Homo sapiens: one gene and its partners. The protein of the gene in region 3 purifies or fractionates together with the protein of the main gene of each other region. This does not show direct contact. Each region holds a gene or a part of one and is shown on either strand. Other genes may lie near its edges. The genes, in order: BRI3BP, UFD1 and ADORA1.

What was found.
Region 1: the proteins of ADORA1 (region 3) and BRI3BP purify together in Homo sapiens (affinity purification with mass spectrometry; one large-scale study listed by BioGRID and IntAct). This does not show direct contact.
Region 2: the proteins of ADORA1 (region 3) and UFD1 purify together in Homo sapiens (affinity purification with mass spectrometry; one large-scale study listed by BioGRID and IntAct). This does not show direct contact.

The regions. Positions count from the first base shown.
Region 1 is NC_000012.12:125,010,550-125,014,201, reverse strand, and holds part of BRI3BP (BRI3-binding protein precursor), read right to left. Parts: intron 1,669-3,652; coding exon 1,566-1,668; intron 1-1,565. UniProt on the Homo sapiens protein: Involved in tumorigenesis and may function by stabilizing p53/TP53.
Region 2 is NC_000022.11:19,452,208-19,455,250, reverse strand, and holds part of UFD1 (ubiquitin recognition factor in ER-associated degradation protein 1), read left to right. Parts: intron 1-420; coding exon 421-502; intron 503-3,043. UniProt on the Homo sapiens protein: Essential component of the ubiquitin-dependent proteolytic pathway which degrades ubiquitin fusion proteins.
Region 3 is NC_000001.11:203,162,106-203,165,757, reverse strand, and holds part of ADORA1 (adenosine receptor A1), read right to left. Parts: intron 703-3,652; exon of another isoform or gene 635-702; coding exon of another isoform or gene 498-634; coding exon 1-497. UniProt on the Homo sapiens protein: Receptor for adenosine. The activity of this receptor is mediated by G proteins which inhibit adenylyl cyclase.

The DNA of each region.
Region 1 (3,652 bases), on a different chromosome or scaffold from region 3:
GCAGTGGAGCGGGGGCAGCTAGGAGATCCCTGTTTACCTGGCACACCATGGGGCACGGTAGAGAAAACGGGAAGGTTACTTCATCCTGAGAGCATGGGATGCCTCTGAAGCTCTTAAGGCGGTAAGGGACAAGGTCTCCTCTGGGTATAAAAGCTGTACACCCTGGGCACTCTGCCCGGGTTAGCTCCTGTCACCCACCGATGGAATGCAGGTGGAGGTGGGGCAGAGCCACCTGGGAAGGGGAGTGTAAGGCTGGGGGTAGCACAGGCTGCAGGACTGGACTAGGAGTGCCCAGCTCAGTTACCATGACCGTTGCTGCCTTGCCATCCGCCAAGACCAGTATCAGTGCCCCCTCCCACATGTAGAAAGGGAGGGGCCGTGCCTCACCAATGTTCTCTTCCTGATTATAAACGTGTGACTAGCACTGCACTATCAAACTGGACTACCCTCCTCCCCTAGCCCACAAAACCAGGGGCCAGCTCCCCTGGCAATTCTTGCCCTGTGCGGTGGGTATGGTGGATGGGCTGGTGCAGCATCAGGTGACACCTGCTCCCAGGCTGCCTTCCTGGATGGCAGAAGCTGGAGAGCTAAGAACCGCATTAGCCTGCCTCCCTCGCAGCTAGGGACTGGACAGAAAGTAAGTTCCACCTGGCAGTTCCCCCATACACACACGACTTTGGAAATTAAGTGAAGTGTTGCAGCTGATATGCATGGTTCCAGAAATGGCAAGGGTCCCTGCACCCACATGCAAAGTCTAGTTGTTGTGGCGGCAGCAGTGGCCTCCTGGTCCTCAAATTATACTACAGTTGTGTGACTTCGAACTCAACGGTTTCAACAGCTGCAACCCTGGACAGCCAGTTCGGCAGTGTCTGAGGCCATGCATCTCTTCCTCAGCCTTTCTGATGGTTCTGTGAGTGTCTCTGTCTCATGAAATCCCCTTCTGCCTAAATAACTAGTCATTTCTTGCACGGATGCCAGTAAGCCAGAGCACTATACCTCTGGTCCATGTGTTTTGCACACAAATTGGCACTCCCACTACCCAGTCGCACCTTATCCTAAGTGGCATCTGGGAAATCTCAGCTTTGATGGGCCATTTGTTTTTTATTTTTATGATTATTTGAGAGGAGTCTTGCTCTGTCGTCCAGTCTGGAGTACAGTGGCATGATCATAGCTCACTGCAGCCTCGAATTCCTCATCTCAGGCAATCCTCCTGCCTCAGCCTCCCAAGTGGATGGGGACTACAGGTGCACATCACTGCACCCAGCAATTTTTTTGTACTTTTTTTTTATAGAGATGGGATCTCACCATGTTGCCCAGGCTGGTCTTGAATTCTTGGGTTCAAGCAACCCTCCCACCTTGGTCTCCCAAAGTGCTGGGATTACAGGCATGAGCCACCATGCCTGGCCTATATATGAGACTATTAAAATAAAAAATGTTCACTCATATCCTCACTGACCAGCCCTCCGCAACCTTCTCATGTATTACTCACTGTGAGTACCAGTTCCACACTATGAGAACCACCAAAATAGAATGACACCTTACGTGAATGCCACCCCTACACCTACCGTCAAGTCCAAGAACATCCAAGAGCTCGGTCCAGACTTTCCACAGTGTCTCCACGAACATATCCACTCCCAGCACAAATCTCTCAGTCAGCCTGGCCAAGAACTGCAGAAACAAGAAAACGGTCATCACCCAATCACTGTTTTCCTCCATCAGTCAAGCAGTGAACTGGGGAGCTTGGGAGTTTATACCTGGGAAGGGAAAAATAGTGAGCCCATGATGAATACCACACATGTGGACTACTGGCCCAGGGGATTGACTTGAACTGGGTACTGATCACAGCCTAACTGAGAAAAACTGGTGAAAACGACCCCTTCCTTGCAAGGGCTGAACAAGGCACCTATGGAGGCTGGGACTCTCTGCAGGGCCGCGTTACGCCGCTTGCCATTGCTCCTGCTGTCTTTCATGCTTCCTCTTGGGTCAGGATCTCTGCCTTCCTCTGCCTGATTTCTCTAAAGAGACAGGGTCTCACTGTTGACCAGGCTGGAGTGCAGTGGTGCAATGATAGCTCACTGCACCCTCAAACTCCCGGGCTCAAGCAATCCTGCCTTAGCTTCCCAAGTAGCTAGGGCTACAGGTGCAGCCACCACACCAGGCTTTATTATTATTTTGTAGAGATGGGCTCTTGCTATGTTGTCCAGGCTGGTCTCAAACTCTAAGCCTCAAGCAGTCCTCCTGCCTGGCCCTCCCAAAGTCCTGGGATTATAGGCGTGAAACACTGCACCGCACCCTGCGGGTTTCTCATTTTTAAAGAGTGGAAGTTTCTGCTCCAAGGAAGCTGGTAATGATACAGCCCCATGCTCTATCCAACTCTAAGGACCCTGAGCCTCTGAGGTCTTTATTTGCCCTCCAGGTGACACAGGGCTAAAGAAACATGAATACAAGGTACAGCCTCATTTTAACTTTTTTTTTTAAAAAATTAGTGATATTGTATACATGTAGCATAAAACTCAAGCCTACCAACAGGTATTCAGTGGAGACTAAGCCTTCCCTCTCATTTCCTGGCAACTGGAATCCCCCTCCGGAGGAACCCTTCCTTAGACGTGCCAGGTGAATAATGGCACAGACATATTCTTTCTGCAATGGCAGCACAGGTGTACAGCTGAGCTGCTTTGCTCATGCAACACTCTGTCTTGGAGATACTCACACTCAGACCACACAGAGCTGCCTCATCCTTTTTAAACATGGTACACCTGGAGCCAGGCCCATACTCATGGATACCTACATGGTTTCCAGCCTTGGCTATTACAGGGGAAAAAACAGCGAGCCCATGATGAATGCCACCAAGTGGTCTACTGGCCCAGGGGATTAACTTGAACTTGATACTAATTGATGACAGCCCAACAACTGAGCAAAACTGAGTAAAACACGCCCCTTCCCTTGTAAGGGCTGACCAAGGTATCTATGGGGGCTGGGACTCTGCAGGGCTGCATCACGCAGAGTGCTGCCATAATAGAACCCACCTACATGGGCCACTCGGCTCACGTGTGAAGGGTAAATGCCTCCGTGAATTGGCTACAGCTTTTTTTTTTTTTTTTTTTTTTTAAGACAGGGTCTCGCTCTGTCACTCCGGCTGGAGTGCAGTGGTATGATCTCGGCTCACTGCAGCCTCCACCTCCCAAGTTCAAGCAATCCTCCCACCTCAGCCTCCCGAGTAGCTGGTACTACAGGCACGCACCATCACACTCAGGTAATTTTCATATTTTTAGTAGAGACGGGGTTTCACCATGTTGGCCAGGCTGGTCTTGAACTCCTGACCTCAGGTGATCTGCCCACCCCGGCCTCCCAAAGTGCTGGGATTATAGGCGTGAGCCACCACACCCGGGCAGCTACAGTATTTTATGTTTTAATTTAATTTTATTTTATTTGGAGTCTCGCTTTGTCGCCAGGCTGGAGTGCAAGTGGCACGATCTCGGCTCACTGCAACCTCCTCCTCCCAGGTTCAAGTGATTCTCCTGCCTCAGCCTCTCGAGTAGCTGCGACTACAGGCATGCGCCACCATGCCCAGCTAATTTTGTATTTTCAGTAGAGATGGGGTTTCTCCATGTTGGCCAGGATGGTCTCGATCTCTTCACCTTGTGATCCACCC
Region 2 (3,043 bases), on a different chromosome or scaffold from region 3:
TGCTGGGTCCGGGGACCCACAGCAGACCCTTCCTCTGGTGGCCATGATGGCAGGGGCAGGGCTGAGGTGTGTCAGTTGTCTGTTGTGTGTGTGAAATCAGAATACTGGAGTGAGAGTCTAGCCACCTCAGGGGGTTCTGTGAAGCTCAGGACAGTGACAGTGAGGGCTTCCCAATCCTTCAGATGACCCCTCTCCATAGACAGGTACAGAGCCTAAAGCCCCTGGCCCTATACCCAATATTGATACCAAACCAAGAAGTCAGTTACTTTCTGCTTCCCTCCTGGGAGGATGCCAGGAAGCACCAAAGGGCCCAGGTGGGGTGCAGCAGCATCTTTTCTGCGTTCCTCTTGACTGTCAAAAATGAATTTTAGTCCTTTTTTCCTGGAAATAACATTTCTCTGTCTCTGTCTCTTCTTACAGAGGAATTCCCAATTATGAATTTAAACTTGGTAAGATAACTTTCATCAGAAATTCACGTCCCCTTGTCAAAAAGGTTGAAGAGGTGAGTGTATTTCCTTGTATTTCCTTGGTTGGTAATGAGGAGATTTATTTGCTAGTGATGACTGAAGTTCTTGGCATTCTGAGTAGGGGTGTGCATTAGTCTGTTTCCAAGCTGCTGGTAAAGATGTACCCGAGACTGGGCAATTTACAAAAGAAAGAGGTTTAATGGACTTACAGTTCACATGGCTGGGGAGGCCTCACAATCATGGCAGGGGGCAAGTCACATCTTACATGGATGGTAGCAGGCAGAGAAAAAGCTGGTGCAGGGAAACACCTACTTATAAAACCATCAGATCTCATGAGACTTATTCACTATCATGATAACAGCACGGAAAAGACCCGCCCTCATGACTCAGTTACCTCCCACCGACTCAGTTACCTCCCACCTGGTCCCTCCCACAACACGTGGTAATTCAAGATGAGATTTGGGTGGGGACGCAGCCAAACCACATGAGGGTGTCTGTCATGTTTTCCCTTTCCTAGGGTCCCTCTGCTCCCTGGTGTCCTGTTTTTTTCTGTAGAGCTGGTGTAGGGTGTATGAAACAGAAGACTTGCAGCATGGGGGTCAGGAGCTCTGTCTTGCTCTAGAGCCGACTCCAGGCTCTGTTATCACAGAACTGTGTGCCCTGGGTGGGCTTCGTCTTCCAACAGAGACCTTGAACTTCAAATATAGGCAGCACCTTCTAGCTGAGCAGGGTGGTGGCGGGACAGAGGAAGGCAAGGGCTGAGCATCCTGTAGACATGGGCACTTTGTGGGAATATGGCCAGGCCTGGCAGCAACTGGAACGCAGTCACCTCTTTGTGATGAGGATTTCTACAACACCAGCGCTTCAGACCCATCGCTCTCCTGGTTCCTTTTCTCAAAGGATTGGACCCTTGAGGATCCAGGATCAGGGCAGAGGGCAGATGTACTGAGCCACCCATTCAGGACCAGCTGCTACATGGGAGCCATCCCAATTACTGAACTCTTTTCTCTAGCACTTGGGGTGGTTGGGGACAGAGACCACTGTGAAGTTTGCACACCTGGTCCTACTCACAACCACTTCTGGGCTCAATGTTCAAGTTGAAACAGCATTGGGCATTGGGACCTTTCAGGCTCAGAGGAGCAAACATAGTGGCCAGTCAGACCTCACCCTCCAGCTCCTCCTTCAGGCACCATCCAGGCTTCACCAGCTACAGGCTGCCTTTCTCACTAAAAGCCAGTGCCTGACTCCGACCTAAGACCTTAGCATGGGACGTCCCCCAGGCTGACTGTGACCTGACTGTTGCAAATTTACAGAAGGCAGGGGAGGCCAGTGGGCACAGCAGGCCTGTTTGACCATAAATATGTATTTAAGAAGTATATGTTTAAAGATGGGATTGAAGACATATTTAGCTCTATTCCATCCTGCAGCCCCACTAAGGCTGTGGCTAAAGGTCATGAGGTAAGAAAGACAGTGGAAGAGGAGGCAACTACAAGGCTTTGGAAGCCCCAGGTACCTTAGTAGACCATAGAAAGCCTAGAAGCAGTTCTGTGTAGATTGTGGAATTCTCAAAAGGCACCTCTAGAAATGAGGGACTAAAGACAGAATTCTGTTACTAAGCAGTTAGAGCTGCATTACCCTCCCTCCCCCATCCCAGAAGGCTGGAGGCTCGACTCCAGTAGGTCTCTAGACTACTATCTCTGAAGTGAAGGCCACAGTCAGAAAGCTTTCCATTCCAGCATCTAAATAATAGAGGATTTGTGGGAAGAACAGCCACAGAAACCAAAGGAGCAGAAATCATCAGGGAAATAGTTTCCCCAAAGATGGGCACAATTTTGCAGATTTGAAGGGCTCACTGAGTTCCAGCAAAATGAATGAAAATAGCCCCACTTTGAGGCAAAGAAAGATCCTAAAGCTTCTAGAGAGAGAACAGAGGTATCACCATGCATTAAGGACATCATCAGCCAAGCGCCATGGCTCACACCTGTAATCCCAACACTTTGGGAGGCTGATGCGGGAAGATCATCTGAGCCCAGGAGTTTGAGACCAGCCTGGGCAATATAGGGAGACCCTGTCTCTACAGAAAATTTTAAAAATTAGCCAAGCATGGTGGCACGCACCTATAGTCCCAGCTACTTTAATGCTGAGTTGGGAGCATCACTTGAGCCTGGGAGGTGGAGGCTGCTGTGAGCTGAGATCACACCACTGCACTCCAGCCTGGGTAACAGTAAGTCCCTGTCTCCCAAAAAAAGGGACATCATCTTAGCAGGACACAGAGGAAACTAGAAGATAGTGGAGCAATATACTCAAAATTCTGAGGGGAAATTTTTTCCAACCTAAAATTCTGTACCAACTCTTATGAGCTGGATTGTGTCCCTCCAGTGTTTCTGTGTTGAAGCCCTAACCCCCAGTAACTCAGATAGGGCCATTTAAAGAAGCAATTAAGTTAAAATAAGACCATTAGAGTTGGCCATAATTCAATCTGGTGTCCTTTTAAGAAGAGGAAATTTGGACATAGGAAGGGCCATGTGAGGACACAGCAAGAAGGCAGCCATCTGCAAGCCAAGGAAAAGGGTGTC
Region 3 (3,652 bases):
TGCCGTGCGTGAGGAAGATGGCAATGTAGGTAAGGATGCTGGGCTTGTGGCAGGACGGGCAGAAGAGGGTGATGCAGTTGAGGATGTGCAAAGGCAGCCAGCTGAGGGCAAAGAGGAAGAGGATGAGGGCCAGCGACTTGGCGATCTTCAGCTCCTTCCCATAGTACTTCTGCGGGTCGCCGGAGGAGGCCGACACCTTCTTGTTGAGCTGCTTGCGGATTAGGTAGAAGACCTCCAGGTAGATGAGGACCATGAGGAGAAGCGGGGGCAGCACCCACACAAAGAAGTTGAAGTAGACCATGTACTCCATGCTGATGACCTTCTCGAACTCGCACTTGATCACGGGCTCCCCCATGCTGCCGTTGGCTGCCCAGGCCCGCTCCACCGCACTCAGATTGTTCCAGCCAAACATAGGGGTCAGTCCCACCACGAAGGAGAGGATCCAGCAGCCGGCTATGGCCACCGCCGCCCTCCGGGGGGTCACCACCATCTTGTACCTGGGGGAGAGGAGGGCAGAGTGTGAGGATCTGCCTCCCAGCTGCCTCGAAAGGCCCCTCTGAGGCACGCCTGGCCTCCAGGGGCCTCTAAGAGGAGCACCCTCCTCTTCCAGGGCCCGGTGAGTGGGGAGGTGCATGTCTTTTGCTCGAGGGCTGAGTCTTCAGGATCTAAGATTTAGTGCTTGCCATGCATTGGCTTATTCTCCTACAGAGAGAGGAAATCCTGATTAATGACAAAAATAATAATAGAAAATCACAGAGGAGCTCCTTTATGAATTTCAAGGAAATGACCACAGTAAAAATTGCTCCCATGTGCTCAGCATGCCCCCACTGGTTATCTCATCATTGCTTCATGACAGCCTTTGTCGCGTAGGAAGTCACCGGCAGAATGAGGACTGCCCAATTGGCAGATGAGGAAACTGAGGTTCAAAGTAATCACAGGATCTGCCCAAGGCCACATGGAAGGTGGCAGTGCTGTTCCGTGCTTCCTAAAACACGTCTACACTGACCGAAACACCCAAGTGATTAACAAACCATCCCTTCTCTTGGGCCAGCAGACACAACTGTCATTTTAAAAAATCTTTCACACAACCCCCCTTCCCTTGGCCTTGTCCCATACTCCCCTGCCATGCCCCATCTCCCACCTCCATATGAACCTCCTGTTTCCCCTTCCAATCACTGTGCAGCACTTACCTCCTAAGGGCTTGATCTCAAGAACCAGCTCTGCACTCCCAAGCTAACTGGGAATGATGCTCAGGAAAGAAAACTGATATTCACTGAGCATCTACTACATGCTAGATACTTTCAGTCATTCATTCATGCATTTACGCATGCATACGTGGATGCATTCATTCAGCAAGCATTTGTCGAGTGCTTTCTGTGCTAGGCATTGCTCCCTGTGCTGAGAATAAGATAAAAGATCCCTGCTTCTACATATCTCACATTTTGGGTGAAGAGACAGATAACACAAAAGCAAGAAAATAAACAAGACAACTATAGATCATGATATGTCCTTTAAAGGAAATAGGTTGAGTCAAGGGCCAGAGCTTTCTAACTTTTTTCAGGTCATGACCCACAAAGAAGATAGAAACATCTGGATGACGAGGCTGCTCGTGAGCCACAAGGGTTGGGCGTTTTCATATCTCAGGGGTTCCTACTTCCCTTTAAACCAATCTAGCCAGCAGCCATCATGGCTTCTGCCCACATACTGGCCTTGGAGACAGTGCCAAGGGCTGGGTCTCACCCAGCTCTGTGCTGAGAAGCCAGCTGAGCAGCAGCAGCTTGCCCAGTTGTTATTTTCCAATGCGGCTTCTGAAATGGATGGAGTGCCCTCCTGAGCATGTAAATAGCTCCTGAGACCCAGGAGTGTGAAGGGAGAGGCTGCCGACTGTTTCCTTCCGCCCCAGGGATGCAGAATCTGCGGCTTTCTCCTGCATGGTGATGATGCTTAAAGTCTGTCTCGCCCCGGACAACGCTTCTCCTAGATCCTTCACCATCCATCAAAGCCCACCTGCTCTGTGAAGGCTATAGGGGTAGGAAGGGAGACAATTTGCCCAGTGGGAGGAACCAGATGCCCCTCTCCACCCCATCTAGAAGATAAGGACTAGAAGAGACCTTTGGAATCTCATTTTCTATCCCTTCATTGTCCCAGTGAAGAAATTGAGGACTAGATGACTCCAACACCTTTGGAGCAGTTCCCCTCTCCTACTCTGTGATCATAGGATTCTTGTGCCCCAAACCACCACCACCAAGGGGCCTTGAGAGGTGACCAGTGCACTTGTGCCTCTGAAGTTTTCTTAGATACAATCCTCACTCTCTTGCTGAAATTGAAGCCCATTCCCTCCTCTGTACCCTCAGCAGAATGGCCAGGCCTGGTGCAGACACTGGGAGTGAGAAGACCCAAACTCGGGCTGCCAGTCTGCAACTTGCTAGATCAATGTCTCCTCTGTAAAAGAGACCTACTTCAGAGGGGGAGGATCAAATGAGATACTACGTGTGCAAGTACTCTGTAAACATCCGACCAGTATTCCTTTGCCTGAGCTCTTCTTACCCCTCCAAGCTCCCAGACAAATGGCCACCTGGAAAACTCCAGTATCTCTGGATGCTCAGCAAACACAGCCTAAGGGCTATTTAAACATCTTGCTCACATCTTGTTCCTGACCATCTCAATGTGTTCCCCACAGATATGGTGTCCTCTCAGATATGGTGGAAAAAGTTCTGGGCATGAGTCTACGGGCAAAGACCAAAGGAACATAGGTCATTCTGAAGGCTGAGGGATGCTGTCTCAGCAGCCACACAGCGGAGAGTGGGGCCAGATCCCCAGGTGAACCTCAGCAGGGAAAGCGAGCTGCCACTGCAGAGAGGACGGGGCCAGGTGTCCTGCCTACCCCCACCACCCATCACATCTGCCATTTATACCACATTTATCATTTACAAATCCCTTTCTCAGTCCTGTCTCAGGTAATCCTCATAACTGCTGCTGTGGTGAGCACAGCAGATAAGGGAATCCCCATTTCATAAATTAGAAGCTCCACTGGCCTGGGTCTCCTGACTCCAAGCCCAGCTCTTCTTCAGGGTGCCAGGCTGACTGTGGGTTGTTGAGATGCAGATGATTGGCAGGTTGAAAATATCCCTTGCCTAAGAGATTTAAAAGGGGAACTTCAAGACTCTGCCCAAGGAAGGCACCACCCAGAGTCAGTGGGGTGGGGTAGGTGACCTCTGGTGCTGCCGTCCAGCCTATGGATTGGGGGATCTAGCCTGGGACTGACATCAGGGCAGTGATGACCTATGGAGAGAGGAGAGGTAGACAGTGATAGCCCTAGACAGGAGAGAGGGAGGAGACTTCTAGCTACAGAAGTGGGTCCCTCCCCTCTTCTCTCCTCACCCCTCACCCTTCTGACCACCCAGAGCCCCCGGGGTTAAAGCTTTCCTGGGGCTCCTCCAGGACCCAGTCCCAGCAGACCCTGCAGCTTAGGGTATCAGCTCTCATCTGTTTTTCTTGCTATTTTCTCCCTGGTGGGAAAGGGCTGGACCCAAGACCTTGGCTGAGGTGGGGCAGGCTCTCACAGGAAGGGCTGCCTCCCAAGGCCAGGAGAGAAGCTCACCTATCCTTACACGTGGGAAAGGAAACAGAGGCTGCAAGTCCTGGGGCACGC